Homo sapiens: one gene and its partners. The protein of the gene in region 1 purifies or fractionates together with the protein of each later gene. This does not show direct contact. Each region holds a gene or a part of one and is shown in the gene's direction. Other genes may lie near its edges.

The links.
Region 2: the proteins of HGFAC (region 1) and PPP3CC purify together in Homo sapiens (affinity purification with mass spectrometry; one large-scale study listed by BioGRID and IntAct). This does not show direct contact.
Region 3: the proteins of HGFAC (region 1) and POTEF purify together in Homo sapiens (affinity purification with mass spectrometry; one large-scale study listed by BioGRID and IntAct). This does not show direct contact.

Annotation. Positions count from the first base shown.
Region 1 is NC_000004.12:3,447,403-3,450,067, forward strand, and holds the end of HGFAC (hepatocyte growth factor activator serine protease isoform 2 preproprotein), read left to right. Parts: intron 1-89; coding exon 90-229; intron 230-492; coding exon 493-633; intron 634-725; coding exon 726-874; intron 875-1,834; coding exon 1,835-2,017; 3' UTR 2,018-2,084; downstream 2,085-2,665. UniProt on the Homo sapiens protein: Serine protease that hydrolyzes the inactive zymogen hepatocyte growth factor (HGFsc) to an activated disulfide-linked heterodimer, then initiating hepatocyte growth factor receptor signaling pathway.
Region 2 is NC_000008.11:22,443,986-22,447,640, forward strand, and holds part of PPP3CC (serine/threonine-protein phosphatase 2B catalytic subunit gamma isoform), read left to right. Parts: intron 1-3,655. UniProt on the Homo sapiens protein: Calcium-dependent, calmodulin-stimulated protein phosphatase which plays an essential role in the transduction of intracellular Ca(2+)-mediated signals. Dephosphorylates and activates transcription factor NFATC1.
Region 3 is NC_000002.12:130,119,090-130,122,744, reverse strand, and holds part of POTEF (POTE ankyrin domain family member F), read left to right. Parts: intron 1-1,446; exon of another isoform or gene 1,447-2,136; 5' UTR 2,137-2,229; coding exon 2,230-2,750; intron 2,751-3,655.

The DNA of each region.
Region 1 (2,665 bases):
CCTCCGTGGGCCTGACAGGGGGTGGGGAGAGGTGAGCCCGGTGGCTGGGGGAGGGCTGGTCCATGCAGCCTCCAGCCCCCCTTGCACAGCCCCCCCAGGGACAGCGTCTCCGTGGTGCTGGGCCAGCACTTCTTCAACCGCACGACGGACGTGACGCAGACCTTCGGCATCGAGAAGTACATCCCGTACACCCTGTACTCGGTGTTCAACCCCAGCGACCACGACCTCGGTGAGCTCCGGCGTGTCGTGGCTGCACTCTGGGCAGGTGGGCCCTGTGCTCCCCAGGCCAGGCCCAGACAGGGGCAGGAGCTGGGCAGACATGTGGTGCGGGGGAAGCTGGGGGCAGGGCAGGGAGGACAGGGCACCGCTCCCTTCTGGATCTCCCAGGCTGCCCTGTGGACCCCACTGGCTACCCTCCCTCCACCACGGGCCCCGACAGCCTCCCGTTCAGCCCGCACACCACAGGCTGACCCTGGCCACTCTTCTGATCAGTCCTGATCCGGCTGAAGAAGAAAGGGGACCGCTGTGCCACACGCTCGCAGTTCGTGCAGCCCATCTGCCTGCCCGAGCCCGGCAGCACCTTCCCCGCAGGACACAAGTGCCAGATTGCGGGCTGGGGCCACTTGGATGAGAGTGAGTTGGGAGGGGGGCGCCCAGCGCCCCGCCAGGGTGGACAGTGGCCAGCCACAGTGTGGGTGTCACGCTGAGGGCATTGTGTCCCACAGACGTGAGCGGCTACTCCAGCTCCCTGCGGGAGGCCCTGGTCCCCCTGGTCGCCGACCACAAGTGCAGCAGCCCTGAGGTCTACGGCGCCGACATCAGCCCCAACATGCTCTGTGCCGGCTACTTCGACTGCAAGTCCGACGCCTGCCAGGTGAGCTGGTGCCCGCCCCACCAGGACCCGACTGGTGGGGGCTCAGCTGGTCCTGAGTCTCCGAGATGCTTGCCCCTGGGGAGCCCAGAGCCTGGCGGCACCCCAACCTGGCAGGGCCAGCCAGGGACCCCTGGGCAGGGAGCACACTTACTGTCGGTGGCCAGCACCCCAGGGCCACCCAGAGCCCTGCCGGAAGGGCATCCTCCTCACACAGAAGGGGAGACCCAGGCTCTGAGAGGGGCCTGGGGTCCCACAGAGCCCGGACAGTTCCTGGCTGTCCAGCCCAAGGCAGTGCTTTCCGTGTGACACTAGGCACCAAAGGCCCCTTTGCCCCGAGTTCTCTCAAGCCAGCTCTTCAACCTTCAATAAGTTCTTCAACCTTCAATAAGCCCAACAGCCCAACCACGTCCTGGGCTCTGCAGGCCTGTGTGCTCAGGCGGCACGGCAACCCTGGCATGCGACGGCTCTCTTATGCCCCATTTTATAGCTGGGGAGACTGAGCCCCAGGCAGTCAATTCACTCTTCCAAGGCCACAAAGCCCAGGAGTGGTAGAGTGGGTAGGGCTTGTCACTGGACCTCGATAAGGGAAGTCAGGATGGTTTCCTGGAGGAGGGAGTGTTTGCACTGGTCCTGAGTGATGCGTAGGAGTTTTCCAGGGAGTGAAGAAGTCATTTCAGGAGGTGCTGGGACACAGGGTGGCTGTGTGGTCCACACAGGGTTCATGCTGGTGGGGAGAGGGGGACCGTGGCTTCAGGAAGGGGAATAACGTGGTTGGATGCCCTGGCCCAGCCAGTGCTGCCCCCAGGGAATGAGACACCTTTTCATGAGGTTCAGGAGAGTGGATCAGCTCCCTTGCTCAGAAATGCCTTTGTCCTCTGTCCCCAAGCTGCCACTTGGGGGAGAGGGGGGTCCCTGAACCAGGCCCCTGGGAGGGTGGCTCTGACCAACGTCTCTGCCCAGGGGGACTCAGGGGGGCCCCTGGCCTGCGAGAAGAACGGCGTGGCTTACCTCTACGGCATCATCAGCTGGGGTGACGGCTGCGGGCGGCTCCACAAGCCGGGGGTCTACACCCGCGTGGCCAACTATGTGGACTGGATCAACGACCGGATACGGCCTCCCAGGCGGCTTGTGGCTCCCTCCTGACCCTCCAGCGGGACACCCTGGTTCCCACCATTCCCTGCCTTGCTGACAATAAAGATATTTCCAAGAACCCGGCCCACGCTGCCTGGCCCCTGCCTGCGGCCCCGCCTTCCCCTCCAGGCCATGACTGGGGCCCAGGTCTATGCGCAGCAGGCCTCAGGCTGCCGTTCTGGAGCGCACACAGTCCTCAGTGGAGACGGAGCCTGTGGCCCCACAGCGGGGTCTGGCCCCACGGCCCAGAGAGTTGTCAGGGGATGAGGTCTGGGCCTCTCCAGGCCCCAGCAGAGTCCAGCCCCCTCCCAGGCCAGCCCCAGGCCGGGGCTCAGCACCTGGGTTGTCCCAGGGCAGGAAGTGGAAACCAAGTCCAGGCCCCCAGGCGTGGAGGGGTCCGATCCGCGTGGTGCACGGAGTATTGAACCTGAAGAAGAAAGAGCGGCCCCACGGGAACACCCGCAGGCCGTCGTTGGTCTTCCAGATGGCAGCCCGCCTGCCTGAGCCTGGGCTGCACTTCCCGGGAGGGAGGAGGCCACAGGCTGCCTCTGTGGGGGCTGAGGGAGGGAGGGGCCCATGTGCTAGATGGGGCCCAGTTAGAGGGTCACTGCTGGGCAGGCAGAGGCCGTACCCTCCCTCCAGCCAGGGAGGACAGGAGAC
Region 2 (3,655 bases), on another chromosome or scaffold:
CTGTTAACTTTAAAGTGTACCTAATTGTTCTATTTGAGCAAATTTTGGAGAAGAGTGGGTATGTGGGAGAGGTTTGTATTTTAGGTGTCCTTTAAATAGCAGCTTTCTTAAATTGAAGGATGTGGCTGGGCGTGGTGGCTCACACCTGTAATGCCAGCTACTTGGGAGGCTGAGGCAGGAGAATCGCTTGAACCCAGGAGGCAGAGGCTATAGTGAGCCAAGATTGTGCCACTGTACTGTAGCCTGGGCGACAAGAGTGAAACTCAGTCTCAAGCCAAAAAAAAAAAAAAAACTCATCTGTAAAATAGGGTTAATAATACCTTCCCTGTCAAGCCTGGGTCATGCAAGTGACATAAAGCATGTGAAAAGGTCAAGTTAAGGTAGTACTTTGAGACATGATAATAGGTTGGTAATAGATCGCTTACTACAGAAGTAGTTAGTAGAGATATCATTAACATTTGAAAATATCAGAAAGTATGTGAAATTATAAGCTACAAAACTGTTCCTAGTCAGGTGAATACCTATTCTACAGCATAATGGATATGTGGGTGAAATCTCGTCGGTAACAATGTGAAGAGATCAGCACAGTTCTGTCTGGTACTCCCTAGGCAGCAGATTTCTTCTCTATCTGTTGAAGGTGTTTATTTTATGTTTAAACCTTCTTATGATTTTACTCATTCATTAAATGTTTATTGAGTGCCATCTGCAATGTACCCTAGTAGGTTGCTCATTCATTTCTTCTTTGCTTTAAAAGTAGCATTTCTGTGAGCCTTTAGAGCAGTTTATATGCACTGGGGCACCATAACTGGTATCTAAGCCAGAGAACTAGGCACCCAAATGATTAAATTGTGATATTCTGTCTGCTTTATTTTTTTTTCTAGTTTCCACGTTCCTTTTCCTGTTTAAGGACATGTTTTTTCTTTGACAGTGATTTTTATAAAAGCAGTTTATTTCCCTGGAATGAATCTTTTCAGAAGCAACAAGGAAATTTCAGTAGGAATTACATGACAAATATAGAGAATCCATTGTCTTATTTTGTTACTTTATGGCCAGATGGGGTTTAACAGAAAAGTCAGATTTCTTTTTAGTAAGGTGCTGATACATTTCTCCCTTTCTCTTAGAATTCAAATATATTGTGTATTCACAGAGTACTGTACCATTTTTACCACACATGGCAGGCTACTGTTTCTTTAATATCGTGGCACTGGGAATATTGTGCTTATGGCTTTCTTAAAATATTTTAATATTAGTGTGGACAAAAATTGCTATTTCTACAAATATACCCTAAACCCGATTTCAATCTCTGGTACCTATACTTCATTTCTTTCCACAACTCTCCCCCGACTCTCCCTTTTTTATATCCATAATGGATTTACCGAGGGTTTAAAATTTTTTCTCTTAAATATAAGCTTAATCCTGCTACTTATACAATTTGAAAATCAGAAAGGGAAGAAAAGAAAGACTTCATATTCCTTCCCAGCAGAAATAACTGCTTTTAATACCTTTGTGTGTTTCCATCTGCAGGTATATTTTGAATTCAAAGGAAAATGGATCACACATATTAAAGCTTTTGTTATGCAAATATTTCATATTATTTTAACATAAATATTGTAATTTTACCTAAATATTTCCATAATGGTTTCAATCAGCATGGAAATGGTTTTAGAGTGCTTATATTAATATTTTGGTTCTTTATATTTTCAGTGGGGACACATTAGTCACTTGATACAATACCAACCCAGAAGAAACATTTTCAAGTATAAATTTTCAATGTGAATACGTTTTAAAGTTGATATCTCCTGGATTTGTCAACAGTATTTGTTTAATTTATGCTTCATTTACCATTGTGATTAACAAGCTGCCAAACTTTTGAAACATTCAAAATCAGTGCTAATCGAGATTCATACATCTGAGTAGAAATCTGGAACCTCTGAAAGGGCATCTTAATTTAAACACTTAATTTTTTTCTTTTTGAGCAAGGATAAAGTATTCTTTCTTACCTATACGTTATTGGTTGTGATCAAAGCTTTATTTATGGTCTGACATTTGATAATTAAGCTTTCTCTCTTTTATTGCATTTTAAAATAGGATTAAAAATTTTTTTTGCCTTACGTAATTTTTAGTGTACCATAACTTTTACTGGAGTGTATATGGGAAAATGTACAAATTATAAATGTACAGCTTAGTGAGTTTTTACAAATTTAGCACCCACATACCCATGTAACCACTCAACCAAAATAAATAGATTACCAGAATCCCAGAAACAAGCATGAGTTCACGTTCAGTCCACTGGTTTCCATCCCTAAATGGGCAACAGTGGGGAAAATATGACACTTGTAACCATTATTCTGGCGTCTAACGTCATATTTGTAAAGTAACATACTAATCACATCTTACTGTAAAGTGAAAAAAACAAGGGACTCTGAGAGAAAAATGCTAAGGACTCATTACTTAAAGTGAAATAATTAATTAAAGACCTTTTCCTAAGCAGTATTTGATACTAGGAATTGAATGTCTTTCTATTAAGGTAACATTTTTGGAAAAAGCTAATTTTTAGGCCAGGCGTGGTGGCTCACGCCTATAATCCCAGTACTTTGGGAAGCCGAGGTGGGTGGATCACCTGAGGTCCGGCCAACGTGGCGAAACCCAGTCCCTATTAAAAATACAAAAATTAACTAGGCATGGTGGTGCACACCTGTAGTCCCAGCTACTTAGGAGGCTGAGGTAGGAGAATCGTTTGAATCTGGGAGGCAGAAGTTGCAGTGAACTGAGATTGCGCCACTGCACTCTAGTCTGGGTGACAGAGCAAGACTCTGTCTCAAAAAAAAAAAAAAAAAAAAAAAAAAAGCTGATTTTTAGACATGTCTCTATTAGAGACAAAATTATTCATTTAATTCCGGGATTTGTAGTCATTTTGGAACTTTGCTGCTACTTAATTGCTAAATGACTAATGGGAATAAAGGGATGTCTTAGAATCATTACCATCCTTTGGTGCAATCATTACTAGACTATAATGCCCGTTTATAGTTTTTTTTGGTGGGGGACAGGGTCTCGCTCTGTTGCCCAGGCTGGAGTACAGTGGCGCGATCATGGCTCGCTGCAGCTTCAGCTTCCTGGGCTCAGGTGATCCACCTCAGCCTCCCGAGTAGTTGGAACCACAGGCATAGCATACGCCACCGTGTCCAACTAATTTTTTTTTTTTTTTTTTTTTTGTGACAGAGTCTCGCTCTGTCGTCCAGGCTGGAGTGCAGTGGCGCAATCTCGGCTCACTGCAAGCTCTGCCTCCCGGGTTCATGCCATTCTCCTGCCTCAGCCTCCTGAGTAGCTGGGACTACAGGCACCTGCCACCATGCCCGGCTAATTTTTTTTTGTATTTTTAGTAGAGACGGGGTTTCACTGTGTTAGCCAGGATGGTCTCGGTCTCCTGACCTCGTGATCCGCCCGTCTCGGCCTCCCAAAGTGCTGGGATTACAGGCGTGAGCCACCGAGCCTGGCCTAATTTTGGTATTTTTTATAGAGGTGGAGTTTCGCCCTGTTGTTGAGGCTGGTCTTGAACTCCTGGGCTCAAGCGATCCTCTTGCCTTTGTCTCCCAAAGTGCTGGGATTACGGTGTGAGCCACTGCGCCCTGCCTTTTATAGTCTTAATGTTAAAATT
Region 3 (3,655 bases), on another chromosome or scaffold:
ATGTGAACGATTTGTATACTGAAAATTATAGCACATTGATGAAAGAAATTGAAAGTGACAAATAGAAAAAGTCCTATATCAATTGAAAAAATTAATATTGTCAAAATTTCAATGCTACTCAAAGCATTCTACAGATTAAATGCAACCGCTGTCAAATTCCAATGTCATTCTTCACAGAAATAGAAAAATTAGTCCTAAAATCTGAATGGAACCACAAAAGATGCTGAAAAACGAAAGCAATCTTTAGCAAAAAGAACAAACCTGGAGGCATCAGACTACCTAATCTTTGACAAAGCAAACAAGAAAATGGGAAAGGACACCCTATTCAACATATGCTGCTGGTATAATTGGCAAGCCACATGCAGAAAAATGAAGCCGTTCTTCAAAGGTTAAATACAGAATTACCACATGACTCAGTAAATTCACTCCTATGTATACACCAAAAATAAATTAAAACAAATGCCTTACACATAAAAGTATTTATAGCAACAAAAAGTAGGAAACAACAGAAATGTCCATGAATTTTGGAGTGGATTAATAAAATGTGGTCTGTCCATAAAATAAAATATTACTTGGCAATGAAAAAGAAAAACATATTAATACATGCTCCAAAAAGGATGAACATTGAAAACATGATAAATGAAAGTAGTAAGTCACACGTAACTATATTATTATGATTCCACTTACATGAAATGTCCAGAATAGGCAAATCCTTCCAGAATAGGCAAATTCTTAGGTAATAGATGGATGATTGCCTAGGGCTGGGAGAGGTTTAAAGGAAGAATGGGGAAAATAGGGAAAGATTGCTAATGGGTGCAAAGTTTCTTTTAAGGAGCATAAAAATGTTCTAAAATCATGGTGATTGTTTAACTAGTTAATACACTTAAAAAACTGAATTTTATACTTTAAATGAGTGAATTAAATAATATATAAATTGTATCTCAATGAACCTGTGAAAAAAGTTAAAAAATATGTGGTATGCATAAACAAAAAGTTCTTCATTTTATTTCCTAGGGTTTTGGGGAAAAGGTGGTGTTTGATTATATGAGTAAGTTCTTTAGAGGTGATTCAGGAGATTTTGGTGCACCCAACACCTGTGCAGTATACACTGTATACACTGCACCGGGGCAGGAGCTGGCTGCAATCCTGTGGCCCCAAATGCCCCCTTGCTGATGGCCTCGTGTTCTGGGTGCGGAGCAAAGAGGAGCAGGTGTTGAAGGCACCTCAGGCAGGCCCTGGGCTCGGTGGGCGTCTTGTGCTCCGCGATTTTGAGGCCATTTGCAGCCAGCTCCGTCAGCCCGAGCTCCCAGCTGCAGCTGCTGCCATGCACAACAGCACCGCCAGGAGTGTCCTGGGGGCTTTTTTCAAAGGAGGCTGTCAGCATCCTCAAGTTCCAGACGCTTAGCCCCAGTCCTCCTTTAAGAGGCTTTTTTTTTTTCACCAGAGGCTTCTCAGTGGCTTGAAAGCTCAGCTGACTCCCACGAAGTTTGCCGGAACTCAAGGCTGTCAGTGACATTCGTGGCGCCAAGACTTAAGCAGGCGCGTTGCATGCATCGGCCAGTGTCTGTGCCACGTGCCCTGACGCCACCTGAGATAAGCACGCCGCACGCGCACGCGCACGCCGCGCGCACACGCCCGGCAGCAGCTTGGCTGGCTTGTAACGGCTTGCACGCGCACGCCGCACGCGCATAACGGTTTGGCCGGCCTGTAACGGCTTGCACGCGCACGCCGCACGCGCGTAACGGCTTGGCTGGCCTGTAATGGCTTGCACGCGCATGCTGCACGCGCTTTAACGGCTTGGCTGGCCTGTAGCGGCTTGGCTTGGCTTTGCGTTCTTGGCTTGGCTTGGCGTTGGTAGCTTGGATTGACGTTTCCTGCTTGGATTGACGTTTTCTCTCTCGTGTTCCTTTGCTGGGCTTGACCTTTTCTCTGCTGGGTTTGGCATTCCCTTGGGTGGGCTGGGTGTTTTCTTGGGGGCGGGGGTTGGCCCTTTCTGGGGTGGGCGTGGGGTCGCCCAGGGGGGGCGTGGGCTTTCCTCGGGTGGGTGTGGGTTTTCCCTGGGTGGGGTGGGCTGGGCTGGAATCCCCTGCTGGGGTTGGCAGGTTTTGGCTGGGATTGACTTTTCTCTTCAAACAGATTGGAAACCCGGAGTTACCTGCTAGTTGGTGAAACTGGTTGGTAGACGCGATCTGTTGGCTACTACTGGCTTCTCCTGGCTGTTAAAAGCAGATGGTGGTTGAGGTTGATTCCATGCCGGCTGCCTCTTCTGTGAAGAAGCCATTTGGTCTCAGGAGCAAGATGGGCAAGTGGTGCTGCCGTTGCTTCCCCTGCTGCAGGGAGAGCGGCAAGAGCAACGTGGGCACTTCTGGAGACCACGACGACTCTGCTATGAAGACACTCAGGAGCAAGATGGGCAAGTGGTGCCGCCACTGCTTCCCCTGCTGCAGGGGGAGTGGCAAGAGCAACGTGGGCGCTTCTGGAGACCACGACGACTCTGCTATGAAGACACTCAGGAACAAGATGGGCAAGTGGTGCTGCCACTGCTTCCCCTGCTGCAGGGGGAGCAGCAAGAGCAAGGTGGGCGCTTGGGGAGACTACGATGACAGTGCCTTCATGGAGCCCAGGTACCACGTCCGTGGAGAAGATCTGGACAAGCTCCACAGAGCTGCCTGGTGGGGTAAAGTCCCCAGAAAGGATCTCATCGTCATGCTCAGGGACACTGACGTGAACAAGCAGGACAAGCAAAAGAGGTAACCAGGCCTGGGCTGGGAGGAGGTGGGACGTGGGGGGATGATGGGGACATACCCTCCTGGCGGGGGAGGAGGGGGACCTGGCTTTCTCGCCTCCGCAGGCCTCACACCACCCTGGATGTGGAAACCTCAGAGAGGTCAGGGTACAGGGCCCTTTATGAACAGCAACACAAAAACAAAACTTTAGCTGATTTCCAATCATAATTTCCCTCATAGAACACTAATAGACTGTTTTAAAGTGATTTAACTTGCAAAATTAATTAAGTCAATGCAGCAGATTATTTTTAATCTACAGATTTTAAAACAATGTTCTATACATTATAGAAAAGTGTATATTGAGAACTAAGAACGAAGCCCCATAACACATCAACTTCAGGGCTAAATATTCTTCAAATAAAATCCAGTATGGATTTTATATCAATGTACAGTATGTAAATATGTTCTTTACTGAGGAACCTTAGAAGGAAACTGAAATGGGAAGATGGTTCCTGTGCTTGAACAGGAAGATTGAATTTTCTTAAGATGTGAGCTTTTTGGCTGGGCGCGGTGGCTCACGCCTGTAATCCCAGCACTTTGGGAGGCGGGCGGATCATGAGGTCAGGAGATTGAGACCATCCTGGCTAACACGGTGAAACCCTGTCTCTACTAAAAAATATAAAAAAAATTAGCCGGGTGCGGTGGTAGACGCCTGTAGTCCCGGCTACTCAGGAGGCTGAGGCAGGAGAATGGCGTGAACCCGGGAGGTGGAGCTTGCAGTGAGCCGAGATAGTGCCACTGCACTCCAGCCTGGGCAACAGAGCGAGACTCCGTTTCAAAAAAAAAAAAAAAAGATGGGAGCTTTTTCTATTTATCACTTTTACCTAAGCCAAATAAAAATAGCAAAGTTTTAGCGTTTTTAAATTACA